Regions from separate parts of the Homo sapiens genome. Here region 2 is linked to region 1. The links come from fine-mapping of genetic effects on gene expression. A gene starts in region 1. The other region holds a variant in brackets. All regions are shown on one strand. Distances are from middle to middle. Region 1 holds the start of DOK7 (docking protein 7). Region 2 holds the start of LOC105374355 (vegetative cell wall protein gp1-like).

What was found. PIP is the estimated chance that this variant, and not a neighbour inherited with it, causes the effect.
Region 2: its variant is fine-mapped to the expression of DOK7 in whole blood (TOPMed, PIP above 0.99).

Annotation. Positions count from the first base shown.
Region 1 is chr4:3,457,951-3,468,904 of GRCh38, reverse strand. DOK7 (docking protein 7) reads right to left here and starts at 5,599. Exons shown (of 7, transcript NM_173660.5): 1 at 5,476-5,599; 2 at 5,354-5,399. The coding sequence starts at 5,529. RefSeq lists enhancers at 620-1,227, 2,447-3,056, 5,974-6,821.
Region 2 is chr4:3,481,330-3,492,283 of GRCh38, reverse strand. It overlaps DOK7 (docking protein 7), which reads right to left. Exons shown (of 7, transcript NM_173660.5): 5 at 6,626-6,745; 6 at 2,488-2,607. LOC105374355 (vegetative cell wall protein gp1-like) reads left to right here and starts at 7,447. Exons shown (of 3, transcript XR_007057994.1): 1 at 7,447-7,839. RefSeq lists a silencer at 2,463-2,572 and enhancers at 5,729-6,695, 6,697-7,896, 9,599-10,565, 10,566-10,954. The variant T/C (reference allele first, on the strand shown) is at 6,776.

The sequences.
Region 1 (10,954 bases):
ACATGCACACATACACAGGCACACTCGTACACAGGCATGCACACTCATACGCGCACACACATACACGCACACACACACTCCATGCATACACACACAGGCACACACAGACATACATGATCACAGGCACACATACATGCACACACACACGCACACAGACACATACACAGGCAGACATACAGGCACGCACACATACACACACATACACAGACATACATGCACACACAGGCATGCACACAGGCACACACACTCATACATGCACACACACAGGCATATACACACGCACACACAAAGGCACGCACACACCAATACACGCACACTCAGACAAGCACACACATTCATACATGCTCACACAGGCACACACACATACACTCACAGTCACACACACTCATACACGCACACACGCACATGCACACTCATACATGTACACAGAGGCACACATACATGCACACACAGGCACACACTCGTACATGTACATTCACACAGGCACACACACTGCTGCATGCCCATGCAGACACCGGCACACACTTGCACACACAGACACACGCACACAGACAAGCATTTGAGCTCACACACACTCGCACACACAGGTATTCACACGCATGTGCACACGTGCACACACACTCCCACAGGTATTCACATGCACGCGGACACACACTTGCACACATACACCCCCACACAGGTATTCACATGCACACACACACACTTGTGCACACACACCCCCACACACAGGTATTCACATGCACACACACACTTGCATACACACCTGCACACACAGGTATTCACATGCACACACACGTGGACACAGTCATGCACTTGCACTCATGCTTGTGCACACACAGAAGCGTGCACTCATGCACTCAGTGCTGGGGTCTGAATCTGAAATTCCAGTGTTGAAATCTTCACCCCCAAGGCGATGGGTTAGTGGTGGGGCCTTTGGGATGCGATGAGGTCATCAGGGTGGAGCCTCAAGAATGGGACCAGTACCTGATGAGGGGGCCCCAGGGCGCTTCCTCCCCCTACACCATATAAGGACAGAGAAAGCGCCACCTATGCAGCAGGACATGGTCCTCACGAGACACCCAGGACGCGGATCCTCACCAGACACCCAGGCTGCCTTGATCTTGGACCTCCAGCCCCCAGAACCGTGAGCAGTGACTGGCTGTCGTCTGAGCCGCCCAGGCTGTGGCATTCGCTAAGAGCCGCCTGAGCTAAGACAGCCACACAAGCCCACACTCACACATTCACTCTTACACACTCACCCAAATGCTCACACTTGCTCACACGTGCACACGCTCCCACGGTGTGTACAGGTGCACATGTACATCCTCACACACACACACGCACGTGCACACACGCTCCCCCTGCATTCACCTCCACAGCCACAGGGAAACGAGGAATCCAGGATGAGCCCTGGGACTTGGGTTGGGGAGGGATGTCTGGGGTGGGGGGGGGGGGTCTTCCCTGGACACGTGAGGCTGAGAAGCCCACCAGACACCGGGCGGCGATGCACACAGGCAGTTGGACGCAGGCTTCTGGAGATGTAAAAATAACTGTGGAGTCATGAGCACACGGAAGGCCTTACAGCCAGGGCGGAGAGCCGGGGAGGGCGGGAGGGAAGAAGGAGGAGGGGGAGAAGCCGCAGGGAAGATGGAGCAAGCAGGCATGGTGGCCCAGGGAAGGCAGGGGCATGTGTGGGCCGGGGACGCAGTGGGGGGGGTCCCCGCCCACACTGAACACGATGGGAGTCCGCAGAAGTGGCTGCGGGACAGCCTTTGGAGGTCACAGTGACCTTGAGGCTGTGCCCTTAGCAACGCAGGTGGTAGCCGCCTGAGGGGACCCTGCTGGGGTGCAGCAGCCTGGAGCCGCCCCCAGAAGCTGGGCAGGAGCAAGGGGGGCGGCCATCGACCAGGCCGGCCTGCTGATGCCTCCTCGGGCCAGGCCACAGCCAGGACACACGAGACCAAGATCCAGTGCCTAGCCCCGGACCCATTCACAATCTGGTTCGGGAAGGAAACGCGTGAGGGTGCCCCTGCCCGGCACAGGTGTTGGAGGTGTGGTGCAGGTGGGCCCCCCAGACCACAGACATCACCAAGGGCAGCCCAGGACGAGGCTCCAGATGCCAGGGCCAGGCCCTCGCGCCCACCTCTCCATTGCCCTCAAGAGCCCTGTGAGTAGACGAGGACGCAGGCGGGGAATGAGCCGTCCCAGGTCACTGCTCCCACATGTGGAGCTGAGAGCTGAACCCCAGCTCTCTGATTCCCTGTCCTGACGCGGGGGCTGAGGGAAGGTCGCCCTGTTCTTGATGTTTCTATGGGGAGAGGATAACTGGCCACCACCCACGCCCGGTCTTCAGCCCGGAGCTGGGATGTCAGCCCCAGTCCGTTGGGGCAGGAGCCAGACGCACAGGAAATCCACCACCAGGAGGCTCTGCTCAGGAAGGGCCGACCCAGTGTCCACCCCCAGCCCCTCGTTAGCGGAGGCGCTGTGGAGGGCAGGGCCCCAGGACAGCACTAGCCGTGGGGCAGCTCCGGGGCTCACGGGGCACCTGCCAGGGGGCTCCCGGCTCCTGCGCCGTCTCCGTGGGGTCCCTCCTGCAGGCCGGGCTCAGTCCCACCGAGAGCAAGGATAGGGGAGACTAAGCAAGGGCCCAGCCATCAGCCCGGGGGCAGGCGCGGAACTTCCAGCCAGCTGTGGGGGGCAAGGTTTGGGCTGGCTGGGGGGAACTGGGCTCTGCCCAGCAGTCCATGTCTTGGGCCAGATCCCTCGGGTTTCTGAGTTTCAGCTTCCCCCCACCATGGTGACTCCAAGACCCTGCCAGCTCCAGGACTCGGGCCCTCCCGGTGGCTTTTCTGAGCTGGATGAAGCCCCCAGGGGCAGCCCCTGTGGGAAGCAGGCCCCCTCAAGTGTCTGGCCTGGGGCCACACTCTCCACAGGATGTCAAGAACACTTTCCTCACCACCCCCAGCCCCCGCACCTGGGAGGAAGAAGAGAGGGGCTGGGCCAGGCGCCGCTGGCATGCAGGGCCACCAGCAGTGAGTCCTGGGCCACAACTGGACACAGACCACCCTCCTCCCCCGGGGCCCTGCCCAGAGAGGGGACGCAGACACGCATTCCGCAGTGAGGACGCGGTGGAGACATTGAGGAACGTGGTCCCACTGCAGGGCACCCTGCAGTCCCACACCGAGGCAGACGGCCCGACGTCCACTGGCCATGCCAGGCGCTGTGGCTGAGCAGCCCTTTGATAAAAGGGTTTCCCTTTCATTCGCTAAACCTTGTCATAACAGAAAGACGTGCTCACGATTGAGAAAAACGCAAGGAGGAGAAAGGTGCCAGTGGAAAAGGTGCACATCGGGGCCCTTCCCAGAAGGAAATCACCACTGGTAACAAAAAGAACCCTGCCTGTCTTACAAGGAAGCAGACGGGACCCTTCCTCTCTCCCTCACACCAGGAGCGCAGGGTCTGTGCTGTCTGCTCCTCCAGGGCTGGGGCCTGCTCCCTCCACGCCGGGCCCATCCACAAGGGAGGTGGTCTCCAGCGCTGAGCGGGAAGGCAGCTGGGTGAAGGCAAAGGGGGCAGCATCTAGGGAGGCTTATGAGGGGCCAGGGGAAGAGGCATCAGGGCCTCTGAGCGGAGAGGAGGTGCCAGGCTGGCCTGGTCAGGGTGGGGAGGTGGGCGTGAGAACTCCGCTCTGTCCCATCCCCTCATCTGACCGACCTCTGGGCAACCCCACAGGGTGTCAGTTTCAACCCTGGGCTGCTGGAGTGACCAACACAGAAAGCAGGTGTCCAAAGCAATGGGTCCCAGGCCAGTGAGTCAGTGGGTGCTAGGGACACCTGGCCTCAAGGCTTGGAATGAACATCCACCCAGAGGGGGCATGGCACCTTCTACTACCCCACATCACCTCCCACGCCAGCCCCAGAAGGCTGCAGATCTCAACTGCGCAGGATACGGGATAACCCAGCAGACGCTCGGGAGCCACCATGTTCACCTACAGACTCACAGATTGTCCCACCTGGGGGACCCATTGCAAACTCCTGTCACTCCACTCAGGCACTCACCGGCCGGGGGAGCACACCCTCTTGAGGCTGGCAGGCCCTGCCTCCTGGGACTGTCTGATGCAGAAAGAAAATCCCTCCAACAGGGACAAAGACTTCTCCCCCGACACTCCTCTTTGGGGGCTGCTGTCCCGGGTGCCTTCCTGGGATGCGGCCTCTCTGGAGGGTCTGCACCGGCTCCAGCCCAGCACCATCCACCAAGCATCACCTGCCCCACCACGGCCCCGACCCAGCCACAGCTGACTAAAGCCTGTCATCCGCCCCAGCCTGGCAGGGCCTCTCACTCTGCCCAGACCCCATCCCTTCCTATACCAGGTCCCCTGCAGCCCCGGAGGACAAAGACGCCCTCCCAGGCTCTGTCGGTGCCCCCACAGCTCCAGGCAGGAGGTCTGGGCACGGAGGGCTGAGTGGAGAAGTGACCAGCGTGCAGTCCAGGCCCTGCAAGGGGAGGCGGAGGCAGGCAGGAAGTGCTTTCCTCCAGGACCACCTGAGGCCCTGCAGAGGGGACGCAGGAGGGATCCCTGCCCCACACCCTCCCTGGGAGTCACAGACACCCGTCCTGGAGGGTGCTCTGGCAGCCCCCTGGCGTACAGCCCCCCATGCACACAGGCCGAGCATCCCACCCAGACCCGGGCCTGGCCGGCTCTGCCGCACCTGTCCTCTGGAGCAGCTGCAGGCCCGGCTCAGCCCTCCCTACAGGCCCAGCGCTGCAGGCGGCCTGGGCTGCCAGACCTGGGGGCTCCATGCTGACCCTCCCCAAGCTGGGGTGCTGGCTCAGGGCGGGGACTGGGGGGGGACCCCTGCCTCCTCCCAGAGGACTGTTCCCCCAGCAATGTGGCAGTCACTCTGCCCTGCCCTACCGCAGCCCAGCCTCTCGTCTGCCTGGGAGGGGTCCAGGGTCAGCGCTAACCCACGCAGCACCCCTGGAGGCTGGGTTCGGGGGCCCTGCTCTGAGCGTTTCCACAAGCACAGCTCAACCCTCAGGTATGTGGGGCTTTGCTTCTGGGGGGCCCCTTGCTGCTCTGCTGGGGGGCTCAGGGCCTGCGTCCCCTCCGCCTACAGGGCCACCAGGCAGCCCCTCGGGCCTCAGTCTGCCCTGCTGGAAAGAGGGTTCTTCCGTCCAGGGCCCCCACCTGCGCTCCCAGGGGCGCCGGGGGGTCCGGGTCCGCACGGGGCTCTCGGGTTTCCCGGCGGGGTGACAGCGGCGGCGATTTTGGGCAAGCTGGCATTACTGCCCCGGGCCTCGGTAACCCGTGTCGCTACCCCCGCGCCCCCCGTCCCCCGCCCGCCCCGCTCACCTGCCACGGGCGACGGCTTCCGCAGCACCAGCCACCTACTCTTCCACTGCGGGGACAGGGGGGAGCGTGAGCCGCCGCCCGCGCCCGCGCCCCCCCCCCCCGCGCCCCCGACGCGCCCCGACCTTCTTGCCGTCCCGCAGCTTGACCTGGCCCTCCACCAGCGCCGCCTCGGTCATCTTCTGTCATGGTTCCGCGCCGCCGCGCTCGCCCCGGCGCCCCAGCCCAGGGTCACTTTCAAAATAGCTCGCAGGGCCCTGGGCTGGGCCAGGAGGGCGGGCCCGCGGGCAGGGCGGCGACACCGGCGACTCCAGGGCCGGCGCGGGCGGGGCTCCTTCTCCTGCGGGCGGCTCCCCCACCCCCACGGGCCCCTCTGGCCCCACCGTCCCGCGGCGGCCACTGGAGCCGCCCGCCCTCTGGAGCAAGCGCACCATCTGGGCTCAGACGCTCAGACCAGCGCCTGGCGGGGCGGGGGTCGGGCGGGGACTTCTTTTTCAAAAAGCAGAGACAACCACCTAGCAGACATCGGCCCCGCTCTGGGCACTGCTCCCAACTTTAAAGTTGGTCTTCAAACAATCCGGCTTCCCAGACTGGCATCTGCCCCTACCCCAGGGGTCACTAGACACCCGGACAACAGACTGGCCACAGGCAGCCCAGGCCTAGGATGCTCTCACATCCCCAGGCTTCCCCCACACTGAGGTGACCCCTCCCCAGGCAGGCAGTAGGGGTCGGGGAGCCCCTGGCAGCCTCTGTCTCTTCCTCCATTTCTGTTCCCATTAAAAGCCTGCAGGGACCCCAGTGCAGGTGGGCGGGTCCAGGACCCACAGTGCCGCCTCAGGGCCCCAGGTCTCCACCTCTTCTGCCCCCATCCCAGGCAAGAGCAGGCCCTGGTTAGGCCAGCCGGCTCCGATGGGCAGAGGAGCTGCCTGCTTTGTAAAGGACCTGCCAGCAGCCCTCCCAGCTGGGTGGACTTTGCGCTTCTGGACTCCCCCTCCTTGACCCTGTGGCTCCAGTCCAGCTGTCCCCAAGCTCTGGCCTGGGCATTAGATGTCACATCCAGGTTCTTCTGCAGAGAGGCCATGTGCTTTGGGGGACCTGGCAGGTCCGTGCCTTGGGTGTCAGCCCCATCCGAGAGACGGCCTCCACCACCCTGGGGTTGGGGACACCCAGCAGATACGGGAACAGCAGTGGGGAGGGGCGATGGCACCCTAGAAGATAAGCACCTGGACAAACAGCAAAGCTCCGTCCACATGCCCTACCCTAGACCCCATCCTCACGGGGCTGACGGTTCTCGGGGGAGAAGAAGGAAGGGGTAGACAGTGTCCCGTTAGGGAGGAGACGTCTTCATTTCATCCCATCCAGACCCTAGGCTGGGCTCTGTCTGCCTCGCACTGAGGAGCAAATGGAATCAGGGCAGCGTGAGGCCTCACAGCCAGGACTGAGCCACATCGGCTGACCTCAGAGCAGGGCTCAGAGGCATCGGGAGCCCTGGGCGCCCCTCCCCACTGCCCCTGTGATCCAAGAGACAGGTCTCCGGTGGGCCACAAGGGTTGGCTTTGGTGCTTCGGTGATGTCTTGTCAGGGCCTCATGCAAGGCGGGGGACACCAGGCCCAGGAAGCAGAATTTTGCATCCCCCACCCACCCCCGCAGTCACCTGTGCAGCCACCAGCCGCCTTCCGCAGAACAGTTGCTGGGTCACAGAGCCCCATTCATGCTCCCCACACATCCCAGGCCCCCAAGGGGCTGGCCCAGGACAGCCGGTGCGGAGGCGGGGGCCGTTGGGGCTGTAGCCACAGACACATCCGCTGCCCTGGGCGCCTGGCACTTGCTTATCCCTACAGGGAGAGGCAGGGCCCTGCTGCATTCCTGAGTGCTGGCCCGGGCCCAGGCTCCTGCCATGCCTGGCAGCTGCACCTGCTCCCACACAGCCTGGAACACACAGGATGCCGGAGGGTAGACAACTCCCTTCCCTGCTCCATGCGGCTCCAGGGCTGCTGAAAGGTGGAGGAAGCTTCCTGCAGGAGGAGGAGGTGGCCTGGCTGCCACTCCCAGACTGGCCGAGAGCGCTGTGACCCTGGGCAAGCTCCTGCCCCGCTCCGTGCCTCAGAAGTTATAGCCAGAAGTTTCCCCAGAAGTTATAGCCAGGGTTGCTGGTTGCAAATGGAGAAATAGGCTGGCCACTGAGTAGGAAGGGGTTGATTGGAAGCAAATCAGGTCTCCAAGAACCAAGGGGAAGGCTGGAGAGCTGGTAGGCAGTGAAAACAGAGCCACATCCTGAAAGAGGAGGACACCACAGCTCAGCCCCACAGCACAGCTGGGCTCCACACGAGGGGCAGGGTCACCACCTTCAAAGGAGCCCACAGTCTCAGGTCACAGCAGCACCCCTGTCTGACCACAGAGCCCTGCTGCGGCTGCCATGCTGCTGCTGGACACTGTGGCCAGGGACACTGCCATCTCTGCCAGACCCCATGGTCGTGGCACATTGCCACCCGCCAGTGGCTCTGTGGCCAAGGGACCTGTCCCTGACTAGCCACACCACCTTCAGCCACCATGTGATCTTACTGGTCTCAGCTTCCTCTTCTACCTTGATACTGTGATGAGCCCCAATGAGATGGCGTCCATGAGCATCTTTCAAAATGATCCAGGGTTTTCCAAGGTGATTCCAAGGGGATGATGGGGACCAGGGGTGGGCTGCTTTGTCTTGCATCTCCAAGTGGCCTGGTGTGTGGGAGAGAAACACGTCAGCTGAGTGTGGCAAGCACTGTACCCTGTGGTCACACCCGTTTGTGCATCCACATTTCCCAGTACCACCACCCCGCCCCCATCAGGTAAGGCTGTATGAGTGAGTTCTGGCCAGTAAGGCATGGGTGGAAGGGGTAACCAACACTTCTGGCCTGCCCATAGGATGCCTGATACAGTTCGACTGTGTCCCCACCCAAATCTCATCTTGAATTGTATTAATAATATTAGCTCCCGTAATCCTCATGTGTTGTGGGAGGGACCAAGTGGGAGGAAATTTAATCATGGGGGTGGGGTTTTCCTGTGCTGTTCTCATGAGAGTGAATAAGTCTCATGAGATCTCATGGTTTTATGAAGGGCAGTTCCCTGCACATGCTCTTTGCCTGCCGCCATGTAAGAGGTGCCTTTGCTCCTCCTTCACCTTCACCATTTCCCTTTGCCTTCAGCAAGCACCTCAGCAGTTCATGTTTTTTTTTTTCCTGGTGGAGTGACCCAAACCTTCATTCCTGAAGTGTCTGGGGGATTTGTAGTCCTGCCTGGATTGGGCTGTTGTAGTTTCCCATTGACCTTAATCACAGGGCATGGTAATATTAATAGACGCCCTAATGGATCTTTTGTAATTCTATGCATACTCTTACTTACCTCCTTTGTGGAGCTGTAGACTGATTTCATCTCGAGAGTCTGGGTCAATCACTCCAGCCAACACTGTAACTCCTTCTTAGCCTGTTGACTTAAAGGTAGGAGGAGCCCAGAGTGTCCAGGTGGCAATCTTAACTTCTAGCTTAATGGAACAGTTGTGTCTCCTGGTGGCAGCGTTCCTCCCTCTGGAACTAAGACCTCTAGGCCAGCAGAACATAATGTCGTGGGAACAGGAAGCAAACATTTTGCTAGTGGATCACTAGGGGTGATGGCGAGTGGTGCCACTTCCACTTGAGTGCCTTGATTCCTGGACCCGTGCATCCTGGCTAAGGGAGAAACAATATCATATCTTGGATGCTGATTCAGAGCATACATGGCCTTCTGGAGAACTTGGTCCCAGCCCTGCAAAGTATTGTCACCTAGTTGGTGTTGTAATTGTGACTTCAGAAGGCCATTCCACCGTTCTACCAATCCAGCTGCTTCAGGATGATGGGGAACGTGGTAAGATCAGTGAATTCCATGAGCATGAGCCCACTGCCACACTTCTTTAGCTGTAAAGTGAGTGCCTTGCTCAGAGGCAATGCTGTGTGGAACACCCTGATGGTGGATGAGGCATTCCGTGAGTCCATGGATGGCAGTCTTGGCAGAAGCACTGCGTGCAAGATAGGCAAACCCACATCAGGAGTAAGTGTCTATTCCGGTGAGGACAAACCTCTGCCCTTTCCAGGATGGAAGAGGTCCAATATAATCAACCTGCCACCGGGGAGCTGGCTGATCACCCTGAGGAATGGTGCCATATTGAGGCTCAGTGTTAGTCTCTGCTGCTGCCAAATTGGGCACTCAGCAGTGGCTGTAGACAGGCCAGCCTTGGCTAGTGGAGGGCTACGTTGCTGAATCTCCATGTGTAATCTCCATCCCTGCCACCATGGCCACTTTGTTCATGGGCCCACTGGGCGATGACAGGGGTGGCTGGGGAAAGAAGCTGAGTGGTGTCCACAGAACAGGTCATCCTACCCACTTGATTATTAAAATCCTCCTCTGCTGAGTTCACCCATTGGTGAGCACTCACAGGGGACACAAATATCTTCCGTTTTTGACCACTCGGAGAGGTCCATCCACATACCTCTTCCCCAAATGTCTTTGTCACCAATTTTCCAATCATGCTTCTTCCAAGTCCCTGACCATCCAGCCAAACCATTGTCTACAGCCCATGAATCAGTACATAATCACACACCTGGCCATTTCTCCTCCCATGCAAAGTGCACAACCAGGTGCACCGCTCCAAGTTCTGCCCACTGGGAAGACTTCCCTTCACTGCTGTCCTTCAGGCATGTCCTAAAAAGGGGCTGTAGTGCCGCAGCTGACCACTTTCGGGTGGTGCCTGCATATCGTGCAGAAGCATCTGTGAGCCAGGTCCTAGTCTTCTCTTCCTCTGTCAAATGATTGTTGCAGGCCGAAAGAGTGAGGGTCACGATCAACTCAGTATACCACCAGAGGCTATACGAGTAAACAGCAAACTGTTCTCATAAAAGCAGGTTGTTGGTGAACTGACAAACCACATATGCTGCCCAGAAGGACTGCTGAGAGCAGTCACGACCCACGCACAAGTGTTTCTTGTGATTAGGTAACTATGAAGCCTGTTAGCAATAATGTGAACCTGAGATCAATTAAGGAGCTGACCAATCATTACCTCCTGCTCCCTGATCTTTCTACCCAACATGAAGGGCTATAGAAGCTCAGGGTGGCTGCCCTTGCTCACTAGAAACTGGGAGCCCTCTTCTTCCCCGTGCTCTTCCTTTAAAATAGTTTCTTGTTTTTTGTTTTCATTTCTACATTCATCCTCCTTCGTTCAGTCCCGTAGTAACCATGGCAAACCGCGGCAAATGATCACAGGGAACTCCCCATGAGGCCATTGGTGCAGGCTGGGGGAGAGGAGGCAGGGTGGCAGGAGTGGAGACCATGGGCATTTGAGCCACTTCCTCATGTAAAACTTACTTGTGCCTTCAGGATCTGCTTGAGCCCAGTCACATATATACCACTTCTCTTTGATGACGGAATGCTGCTGTGCATGACCCACTTTATGGCTAGACGGGTTGGAAAGCACCCGTTCATGACGGGCAGTTCAGGTTGCATGGTGACTTGATGACCCATAGTCAAATGTTCAGTTTCCACCAAAGCCCAGTAACAGGCCAAGAGCTGTCTTTCAAAAGGAGAGTAGTTATCTG
Region 2 (10,954 bases), 23 kb before region 1:
TGCCCACACACCTCGACTCGCCCCCTGCCCTCACCATGCTGGCGTCCTTGCCTCACTCCCAGTCTCCCTCCCTGCGGGGGATGAGAAGCACACCCAATGCAGATCCCAGGCTGCCTCCCGCCTGCCAGGCCAGGCCCCTCCCGTGCTCTTGGGAAAGCCACTTTCATCTCTGCTGCGTCTCTAAGCTGCCTGCTCTGCCTTCCAGGGCTCCCAAATGGAAAGCAGCTGTGAGTCACCCCCAGGAAGGCAAAAGCTTATTGCAAACCTGAGTCCCCTCCTCCTGGGGCAGGGCAGGAGGGGAGATGACCACTGTCTGCTTGGTGCCCTCTGGGGGACAAGCAGTGATCAGAGGGCACTGGCCGGACCAGCACGGCTCCTGCACTTGGCCGTGGGAACACAGGTCACCCATGCAGCCACCCTTCGGGGAGCACAGCGGCCCCTCCTGCTCTGCCAGCCCCTTCCACCACCACCTCTCCCCACAATGGCAACAGAGCCAGAGCCACCGGCAGCTGAGGAGGTGCCTCTGCTCCTGGGCAGCCAGCTCACCTGCCTTAGAGCCTTTTGTCTGGGCACAGAAGGTAAAACCAACATGCAGGGCCTTGGTCTCCCCCAGCCACAAGCTGGTGGGCAGGAAAGGATTCAAAGGCTCTCAGGGCAGAACCACCTTTCCCGTCAGCACCTCAGACCAGAGTTTAGTAAATGTGGAACCATAAGTGAAGGAAGGAATGAATGAATAGGTGGGAGAAGGAAGAAATGAATGAACAGACAGAAGGAAGGAATAAGCGGAGGGACAAGGAAAGAATGAATGAGTGAGAGAGAAATTGAGTAGGGAGAGAAGAAAGAAATGAATGAGCAGGGGAAGAAGGAAAGAAGGAAGCTGGGGTGAGCAGGAAGGAATGAACGAGCAGGGGGAGCAGAGGAAGGAAGGAACAAGCAGGCGAAGAAGGAAGGAATGAATGAGCAGGGGGAGAAGGCAGGAATGAATGAGCGGGGGGGCGGAGGAAGGAATGAATGAAGGAATGAATGAGCAAGGGGAGAAGGAATGAAAGAGCAGCGGGAGAAGGAAGGAATGAGCAGGGGGGAAGGAATGAGCAGGGGGGAAGGAATGAATGAGCAGGAGGAAGAAGGAAGGAAGGAATGGGGGGAAGGGAGAAACGAATGAACGAGCAGGGGGAGAGGGAAGGAATTAATGAGCAGGAGTGGGGAGAAGGAAGGAATGAGCCGGGGGAAAAGAAAGGAAGGAATGGGGGGGAAGGAAGGAATGAATGAGCAGGAAGAAGAAGGAAGGAATGAATGAGCAGGAGGGAAATGAAGAAATGAGCAGGGGGAGAAGGAATGAATGAGCAGGGGAAGAAGGAAGGAATGAATGAGCAGAGGAGAGAAGGAAGAAATTAATGAGCAGGAGGGTAATGAAGGAATGAAATGAGTGGGGGGGAAGGAAGGAATGAATGGGGGGAAGGCAGGAATGAATGAGCGGGGGGGCAGAGGAAGGAATGAATGAGCCGGGGGAGAAGGAAAGAAGGAATGAGCAGGAGGAAGAAGGAAGGAAGGAATGAGTGGGGGGAAATGAAGGAATGCATGAGGGGGGAAGGAAGGAAGGAATGCGGGGAAGGGAGGAATGAATGAGCAGGAGGGAAATGAACGAGCAGGCGGAGAGGGAAGGAATGAACGAGCAGGGAGAGAAGAAATGAAGGAATGAGCAGAGAGAGAAGGAAAAAACGAATGAGCAGGGGGAGAAGGAAGGAACGAATGAGCGGGGGGGTGAAGGAAAGAATGAGCAGGGGGAAAAGGAAGGAATGAATGAGCAGAGGGAGAAGAAAGGAATGAATGAGCAGGAGAGAAATGAAGGAATGAATGAGCGGGGCGGTGGGGGGGGTGAAAGAAGGACTGAATGAGCAGGGGGTGGGGGGAAGGAAGGAATGAATGAGTGTGGGGAAAAGGAAGGAATGAATGGAGGTAAGGCAAGAATGAGCCGGGGGGGCGGAGGAAGAAATGAATGAGCAAGGTGGGGAAGGAAGGAATGAATGAGCAGGGAGAAAAGGAAGGAATGAATGAGGGGGTGAAGACAGGAATGAATGAGGGGGGAAGGAATGAGTGGGGGGGGCGGAGGAAGAAATGAATGAGCAGGGTGGGGAAGGAAGGAATGAATGAGCAGGGAGAAAAGGAATGAATGGGGGTGAAGAAAGGAATGAATGAGGGGGTGAAGAAAGGAATGGGGGGAGGAAGGAATTAATGAGTAGGAGGAAGAAGGAAGGAATGAATGAGCAGGAGGAGAAGGAAGGAATGAGCAGGGTGGTGGGGAAGGAAGGATGAATGAGTAGCGGGCGGGGCGGGGAGTTGGGGGAAGAATGAATGAGCAGGAGACAGAAGGAATGAATGAATGAGCAGAGGGAGCCTGCAGCCCCCACACATGCATGGATGCCTCCTGAGCTCTCCTGCTGGAGGCTTAGCCGAGGTCCCACAGCCCAGGTCAGCCCCCGGCCCTACCTCCACTGCCCGGCCTGCCCGCATGTGAGAGGAGGCTCAGCCGCTTCTCCAGCTGTAGGGTTTCCAGGGCTTCCTGGGCCACACGCTCCTCCACAGTCGAGGGTCCCGGGGGACTTGGGTCTGTGGCAGAGAGAAGACTCGGTGGAGGAGGTGGCCACCACCGCCCACCCTCGCCCGCAGGCACCAGGCCCAGCCTGACTCAGTGGTTATCCCCCTCTGTGGAGTGGCAGTCCCCTGGGAGTCCCCGCTCCTCCCGATGCCTCATCCCAGAGGCTGGCCCTCAAACGCAGACACCCACACCACCCCTATCCAGGCCACCATGCGCCCAGCTGGGTCCCTGTGCCCGTGGATGGCCCTGCCACCTGCCCACTCACCAGGACCCCACGCCGGCCAGACCCCTCCTTCCTCATCTTCCTCACCACCGAGTTTTTCAATTTTCTGTTCCAAAAAATGACCAGCCCCTCCCCCATCCCCAGGGCCGGCCTCGCTGCAAGAGGGGCTGCCTGCCCCTCATTCACGGTGCCCATTTCTCACAGGCTCCCCTCCACCTGGGGAAATGCCCGCCCACCTTGCAGTGTCCCCACCGTTCCCTGGGGTCTCGGATGGAGACTCATACTGTGCCCAAGGCTCAGAGCATGGTGGTCTGCGGACCCTCGGCCCCACCTAGCCCCTCCCCTCAGGGCTGCATCCAGGGAGCACCAGCCTCGCCTTCTCTATTCATCGTCCATGTGTCCTCTGCGACTGAGTGGCAGGAAACCTCCCCTTCCTGCCCAGGCAGGGTGGGACCTCTCACTGGCCCCTCAGCACCGCTGCTGCGAGCCTCAGCATCACTGCCCTGGTCCCCAAGCCCCCGCCCATGCTGGGATGTCCCAGGCACTAAGTGATGTGAACACTGGGCCAAGTGGCTACCTTGCTCCAAACAGCAGGGCTCAAGACCCTGCCCCTTCCACATCCACAGCACCCACGGCCACAGCCATCCCAAAGAGTTTCCCTGGCAGGGAAGCCACAGCCACACCCGCAAGAGCAAACCGACCCCGTCCTGCTCCAAGTGGCCTCCTCTGGGCCTCCAGAACACACCTCCTGACACCCACCTTGGGGGCACCTGCAGGACTGAGCCGAAACAGGTCCAAGGACCTGCTCTCCCCAAAGTCCAGGAGCAGTGGCAGCATGAAAAGTTTACACCAAATTCTGCAGCGCACAGAGGACCAGAAGGTACAGTCCCCAGCCTGGGACACCTAGATCAGAGCCTCAGCGGACAGAACCCAGCCTGGCGGAGGCTGGAGCCAGACGTCCCGACCCCATGGTCAGCGCTCCGGAGAAACAAACAGAGAAAGCAATGGTGTCCCTGTCCAGGTTCACATCTAGGCTGAAGAGGCCCTGTCCCTGATAGGACACTGTCCTCTGCTGATGCCTTCAGCCCACACAGGTGCCCAGCTGGGGCCCTTGCTCACTACAGGAGACCCCATCAGGACCTCAGAACAGGGCCCTCCCCACGGGCAGGTGAGAGCTCACAGCACCGGGCCCAGGAACACAAGAAGGGCCTGGAGGAGCCTCCCCCACCTCTGGGTATGGCCACCCCAAGGCACTGCCCCGGTCAGCCTGGGGCCCTGCCAGCCCAAGACCCTGTGGCCCTGTCTGTAGCATTGCCGGGGACAGGGATGGGGGTGGCACAAGCCTCTCTCCTGTCCCCTCCCTGCCTGTGCCTGGGAGGGTGGAAGGCGATGGCAGCCAAGGCTGTGCCAGCTCAGGCATCAGTCCCTCCCGACACGGCCTGCTGGTGGCCATGGAGCCCACAGGCCACACGGCTTAGCAGCTCCTGGCACTTTCACAGACACATTCAGCCACGTGGGCAGGACAGCAGGCACCAGTCCTGGCTCCTTGGTGCACTGAGGGTCCAGGCTGAAGACAAGCACAGTGACAGGACAGCACAACTGCCCCTCAGCCCTGGGACATTCCGACCAGGGCCACCCTCAAAGCCAATGCCCCACAGGTGGGACGGAGAGTGGCCCCTCGGTGACACCAGGGTCAGGATGCAGGACACAACCTCCCACCATTTCCCGTCCAGTAACTGGTGGGCCAGCAAGACACGGATCGACTCCCAGCTCCACCACACGCCCCCTGAGCCTCTCACCCTCGTCTGCAAAATGGGGTGCAGCAACGGTGCACCCCCGTGGAGGCCAGGCCAAGAAGGTAACATGCACGCCATACTCGGAGCATGGTGGACCCCAGACCTCTGAGCCCTTCCCTCCTGCTCCTGGTGGGTCTGGCTGCCTCTGGGACTCGGTGTCCACATGCGGAAGACCAAGGGGCTGGACTTCCTGCATCTCTTGGCCCCTCCAGTGGGTCACAGCGGGCTCAGCACAGGAGGACGGCAGAAAGCCCAGAGCTTGAGGATGCCGCCCGCAGGGCTCTATTGTGGGAGTCCTGTGATCACGGGGCTCCAGTGTGCTGCCAGCACAGGCAGACGAACCCATCAGCCCAGACCCTCCAGTAAGTCCAGCCTGCGGGGGCTGGGCCCACGGCTTCTCTGGTGGGGTGCTGCCCAGCATAGTGTCCCAGCTCAACCCACCTCCGGGTGGCCTGAGGCCCCCACACACCTGCAGAGGCACAGCTTGGGGGCACAGCTGCAGGCCGAGGCCCTGACAACAGAGCTTTCTGAGAGCTCCCAGCTGACTCTGACAAAGATGTCCTGTGGAGTGGGGTCTGGGACTTCTGGTCAGCCCAACCCCCTCCAGCTGTCAGCAATGGCCCCGCCTGGGGCTGGCCCACGTGCTGCCTGCGGTGGAGCCTGTCCCATCTAGTGGCTGTCCCAGGCAAACCCTCCCTGGCATCCTCTGCCCAGTACTGCTTCCCTGCTTCCCTCTGCTCCCCGGGAACTGCCTGAGGGGAGCAGGAGAGAGCAGGGAGCCCTGCTCAGCCTCCTGCTGCCCCTGCCCGGCCCTGTCCCCGCCCTGCACTCTGCACACCCTCGCCTTGCACAGCCAAACACACCGACCACATCATCCACGCTGACCACACCATCCACACCTGCCTGCAGCCGCTAGGCAGGAAGACACCTGCAGGGGTGCATCCACTAGGCAGGAAGACACCTGCAGGGGTGCATCCACTAGGCAGGAAGACACCTACAGGGGTGCAGCTGCACCATCCAGCATGGCAGGGCAGCGGGGAGGGCGCTGGCCATAGGTGCCACCTCCCCACTCCCAGGGCTGCCCCCAACGGGACTTTGCTGGTGTGGGCAGGGGGCATTGGGGGCTGTGGCCAGGAGAAGGGAGGCCCAGGTCCCACCCCACATGCTGCTCGCCTCTGCCCTCCCAGTCACCCTTCCCCGCCACACCACGGCGGGGGTGCCAGTGCCAGGAGGCGCCACATGTGAGCTTGCTGCTCACCCGCCACATGGCCTAGGCCTTGGCCTCACTTGGACGTTGGGTCAAGCGCTGCCCTCGTGGAGCAAGAGGAGCATTTGAGAGAGCCCATGGAGGCACCTGGCCCAGCACCCGCCCCGACCTGGGGAGCCCCACCGTGCCCAGGCACCAGAGCCCCTCTGGGGTCCAGCAACATCCCTGGCCAAGGACTCCTGCAGAGAGTGCCGCAGCCACAGCCAAGGAAGTGTGGGTGAGACAAGACGAGACCCCCTCAGCCCAACGTGTCCTGAGACCCCACAGCCAGGGGACCTCCCGAGGTGGCCTTGGGCCTAAACACCGGGCTCAGGCAGAGCCAGTCCCGACCCCAGCTGCAGAGTCAGACCAGCTGCCCCCGGGCCACCGAGCTCGGGCAAGGCCTTCCCTGCTCCTGGGCGTGGAAGATGGTGGTGGTGGGTCAGAGGGTCTCTTACTGCACAGTGGCAGCTGTGGCTGACTGTCCCAGCCAGAAAGCTCTAGGGCCAAGCGTTCCAACAGCTCGGACCCCCGAGGGAGAGCACCTGCAGGTACGAGCCCAGCCCCCGCTGCTCTGAATCCCTCAGCAGGGCTTGCAGAAGCCCAGGCTGCAATCCTGGCCTGGAAAGGTTCTGGTTCCTTAGCTGGGGGTGGGGAGGCTGGCCATCTAACTGGGGCTGACAAATCACTGTGGCCCCCCGCCCCGGGACGTCGCACAGCCTGCCGAGCGCACCCTCCCCGGCCGGCCAGGCTCCCACACGCACCTGGTAGAACCGGCCGCAGCCCAAAGGGGCCCTTGGTGGGGGAGATGCCTCGGACGATGCAGTCGAACAGGAAGCTGATCTGCTCCCCCTCGGCCGAGGACAGGAAGAAGACGCCAGCCCCTGCAGAGGAAGGACAGAGACAGGTCAGTC[T/C]GGCCCGAGGGCGGGCTGGGGACCCTGAAGAGGAGGAACACAGGAAACCGCAGCAAACTCCACCAAGAGCCGACAATGACACCCTGCCTGGCCCCACGAAGTCAGATGCCCAGAGCCGACACCCCGCCTGGCCCCGTGAATCCGGGTGCCCAGAGCCGACACCCCACCTGGCTCTGTGAAGCTGGGTCCCCAGAGCCTCTGGACTCCCCAGGGACCCCGCCGCACCCTTCAAACTTGGGCGCTGGGGTGAGTGCTGCCCCGCCCATCCTAGGTCCTGCAGCCGACAGGGCATGGGGAGGAGGGAGGGGGTGCCCTGCCCTGGACAGATGGGTGCCCCCGCCCACATACCTGCCTTCCGGGCTTGCTTGGGGGGATGGGGGGATGTGGCTGCTCTGCCACCCAGCAGGCACTTGATCAGTCCCTCCTCTGCCCCAAGGTCCCAGCGACCCTGCCCCCACAGCCGTCTTGAGGGCAAATGAAGCAGCCAGGAGACCCCAGAGACATCAAGTAGGGTCCCCTCAGGGCTCCAAGGCCACAGGAGAAGGGAGCTGTGCCACCTGGAGCTGGGGTCACATCCCAGGAAGGCTGCCATGTGACCACACTTCCTTCCCCCGGGCTGTTGGGAGGGCTGCATTCAGATGTTTGTAAAAGGTGTGGCACGGCACCTGCCCACACATGCTGCAGCCGTCACTGCTGGCCAGCACCGCGTCCTCCCCACCTCCTCGGTCATCTTTCAGGGGAAGCTGGAGCTGCCAGTGTGTGGGTGCTGCCCTGAGGCCGTGTGCAGCATCCTGGGGCCAGCATCCACCCCTGCACCCCCACAGCAGCAGGAGGGCCCCCAGGGACCAGCCCAGCGTCACTGGCAGAGCGATGCAGCCGCCACCCGTGGAGAAGCCCCAGCTGCGAGTCACGGGGGCGCTGCCCTCCCGGCCAGGGGTGAATGAAGCCCTGGCGGCCGCGTGAATGGGCCACTGGGCTGGCTGCACCCGGCTGGACACTCCGGCTGGCGTCACCTCACAGGAATCCCGCCCGCTCCGGGGCCTCTGCCCATTGCCCAAAGAAAGGTACGCAGGAGGGAAGGCGCCGGGGTGGGCAGGAGTTGGGGGGAAGGGAAATCTCGGCATTAGAACCCCCGCTGCCTGCTGCCCAGTCATGCTCTGCCTTCACGGAACACAGGCTGTAGATTCCAGGGACACGGAACTCAGGCCAGCCCCGACACGTGGCGACGCTGCCGGCCCCTTGGCAGCCACCCCGGGCACACGAGGGCGAGCGGCACCTTGTGCTGTGGATGCTTCCTTCCACGTAGTGTCCCCAAACCGGGTCATGGGACAGCGCCATTCCTACTTTAGCAAAAAGGACACTGAGGCCCAGAGAAGGCACGCCACCTGTCCACCATCACACAGCCACGAGGTGGACTCAAGTCCAAGTCCCCTGGCCCCCTGTGCACCTTCTGGCCCGATAGAGCTTCCAGTCCTACTGTGGGTGAGGGGTGCTCCTGATCAGAATTGGAGGTGGGCATGGAGGGGAGGCCAATGCCCGCTGCGATGCCATCCAGGAGGATGCCCCGAGAGGCTCATGAGGGCCGTGATGGGGTGGGGCCCCCAAGCTGGGTAGGGTGGGCAGAAGAGAGCCTGCACCAGGCCCTGGGGGCAGGCAAGGAGAAGGCCGTCATGCTGTCTGCTGGCTGGCTCACTCAGTGCCAGGCAGTCGCTCCCTGTCCCCGTGGTCCACCCCTCCCTGTGAAGGGCTCAGCCGGCACAGCCCCAGCTCTCACGAAAGGCCAGGCTCTCTAATCCTGAGCTTACAGACAGCTGGCAGTGGCCACGGGACAATGAGTCCCCCGACTATAAAAAACCACATTACGGAAGGAGTGGAGCCGGCCCCGCATTCCATGCGGCGTCTGCGGAGCGTCACTCACCCCGAAGACACGGTCAACCGGGCAAGGCCTGGAGCACAGCCCACCGCCAGCCTCGGGCTCCCACGTGCCCACGCGACACCCTCGCCAGCCACCCCCATCATCCATGCCAGCAGAGCTGACATCAGTGGCCCTGGAGGAAGATGCCCATCTCCAATGCTGGTCTGCCAAGGTCTTGGGCCATGGCCTCCCAGGACACCGCACGACTAGGCTCTCGCTGGGCCTCCCTGGGTTCATGCTCCACCCCCGCTCCCACCCAGCCCCCCCCGGTCTTGGGAATGCTCAAAGCTCCCTCTGCACACCAGGTCTGCCTGCCATCTCCACTCAGGAGGCTGCCGTCCCCACCCTCCACACCCCTACATCTCCACTCAGGAGGCTGCCGTCCCCACCCTCCACACCCCTACATCTCCACTCAGGAGGCTGCCGTCCCCACCCTCCACACCCCTACATCTCCACTCAGGAGGCTGCCGTCCCCACCCTCCACACCCCTACATCTCCACTCAGGAGGCTGCCACCCCCACCCTCCACACCCCTGGCCACCTAGAACACCCCAGACCTTTCCAGACTCAGGCCACATAACGACACCTTTCATGATGCTTTTCTTGGCCTCTGGCCCCCTTCAGTCCCCTGACCCCGACAGCCCCTCTGTGGTGCTCTCACGGACGCCTCCTCTGGGGTTCAGCCCCACCTGCTGCCGTCCCGGCTGCCAGGCTGAGCACCTTGCCGGCAGGGAGCACAAGCCGTCTGTGGTCTCAGTGTCCACCCAAGCGCCCATAACCAGGAGACCCCCAGTGCTCGGCCTTGGGTGGAAAGACATAGGTGAGAGGCTGCTGACCGCCCCCCTGCCCCTTCCCCAAGACAGGGTGCGCATGTTTCCTGTTTGCCTGTGTGTTTGGGGAAAGGGGGGAGAACAGGGCCTGCCCCATTTTGCTATATCACACAGGTGTGACTGCAGCAAAGCCGGCCACTCTGTTTCCCCTATCCCTGCCCTCAGAGGCCGCTCCTTCTCCAGAGGCTGGTCCACTCCCTCCCTGGAATCGAAGCCAGCCAGTGATGGCTCTGGCATAAAGTGGCATGAGGGATGCTCTCCCAGCCCTGCCCCAAGACCGTCAGAGGCCTGGCAGCTTCTGCTCTCTTGGAACCTATTGAGAAGCCCAAGGTGTCCTATCGGAGGGTGAGGTTCCTGGAGGGAAACTGAGGCAACCCAGCCAACAGCCGGCACAGTGCTTTCCTGGGCCTTTGGGCCCCACCATAGCCAAATGCCACTGCCCGAGGGACCCCAGGCAGCACCTCATGGGGCAGAGATGAGCTGTCCTCACTGAGCCCCGTCCAGATCCCTGGCCCACAGAATTGCCAGCCAGGGAACAGCCGCCAGCCGCTAGGTGTGGCAGGGTAAATAGGAGTTAGCTCAGCTGTTAGAGGGTAAGCGGTGGAGGGGGGTGAAAAGGGCACGTCAGACATCTTTGAGCACAAACGGGTGTCCCAAAGGGCTGTATAGGAGCCCTGTTGTGGGGGATAGGAGGCGTGAGGGTAAGAGGAAAGAGCATGGAAGACGCAGAGAAGCAGGACAGAGTCAGCAGAACACAAGCAGAAGGCCAGGAGCTGCGGGGCTCAGGGCGGCGCCAACTCTGGACAGAGGCTGGGGTTGCTGAGCGGCAGGCAAACCTCACCCACGTTACAGACGCACCTGCTTCCTGAGAAACACGTCTCCAGTGAAAAAGCTGTTGCACTAACTCCAGGACTCACCGGCTTGAGAAAGAAAATGCTCCTCCACGCAGACATTTAATGAGCCAATTAGATCTAAGATGGTTTCCATCTGAATATTCTTGAGTGCCCTCGTGGCTGCCCCTTGATGTCAGAATCTTAAGTGCTCATAATCCCAGCTCCTCAGAGAACAAACATCGGGGTGACCAGGGTGTCCTGGATGGCTCATGCCAGGTAGGCATGGGCAGGACTGAGAAGTCTTGATAACATGACCCTCAGCCCTCTCCATCCCCCAAGGTGGCAGCTTCTTGTACACTTGGGAGTGGCCCCACCTAGTGGGTCTCGGGTGGAGGAAGGCCTGGAGCCTGGCAGTGGGTGTTGGCTCCCACCCCTCCTCTGCCCTCCTGAAGCAGCCCCAGTCCAGGGGCACCACTCTAGAAGGCCCCCCCTTCCCGGGCCGGCCCTCCTCCCCTTGTCCATCACCACCTTGTTAACATTCCTGCAATCCACAGGGTTCCCATCCCCCAACCAGGCAGCTGCTGCCTGGGGCAGCCTCGCCC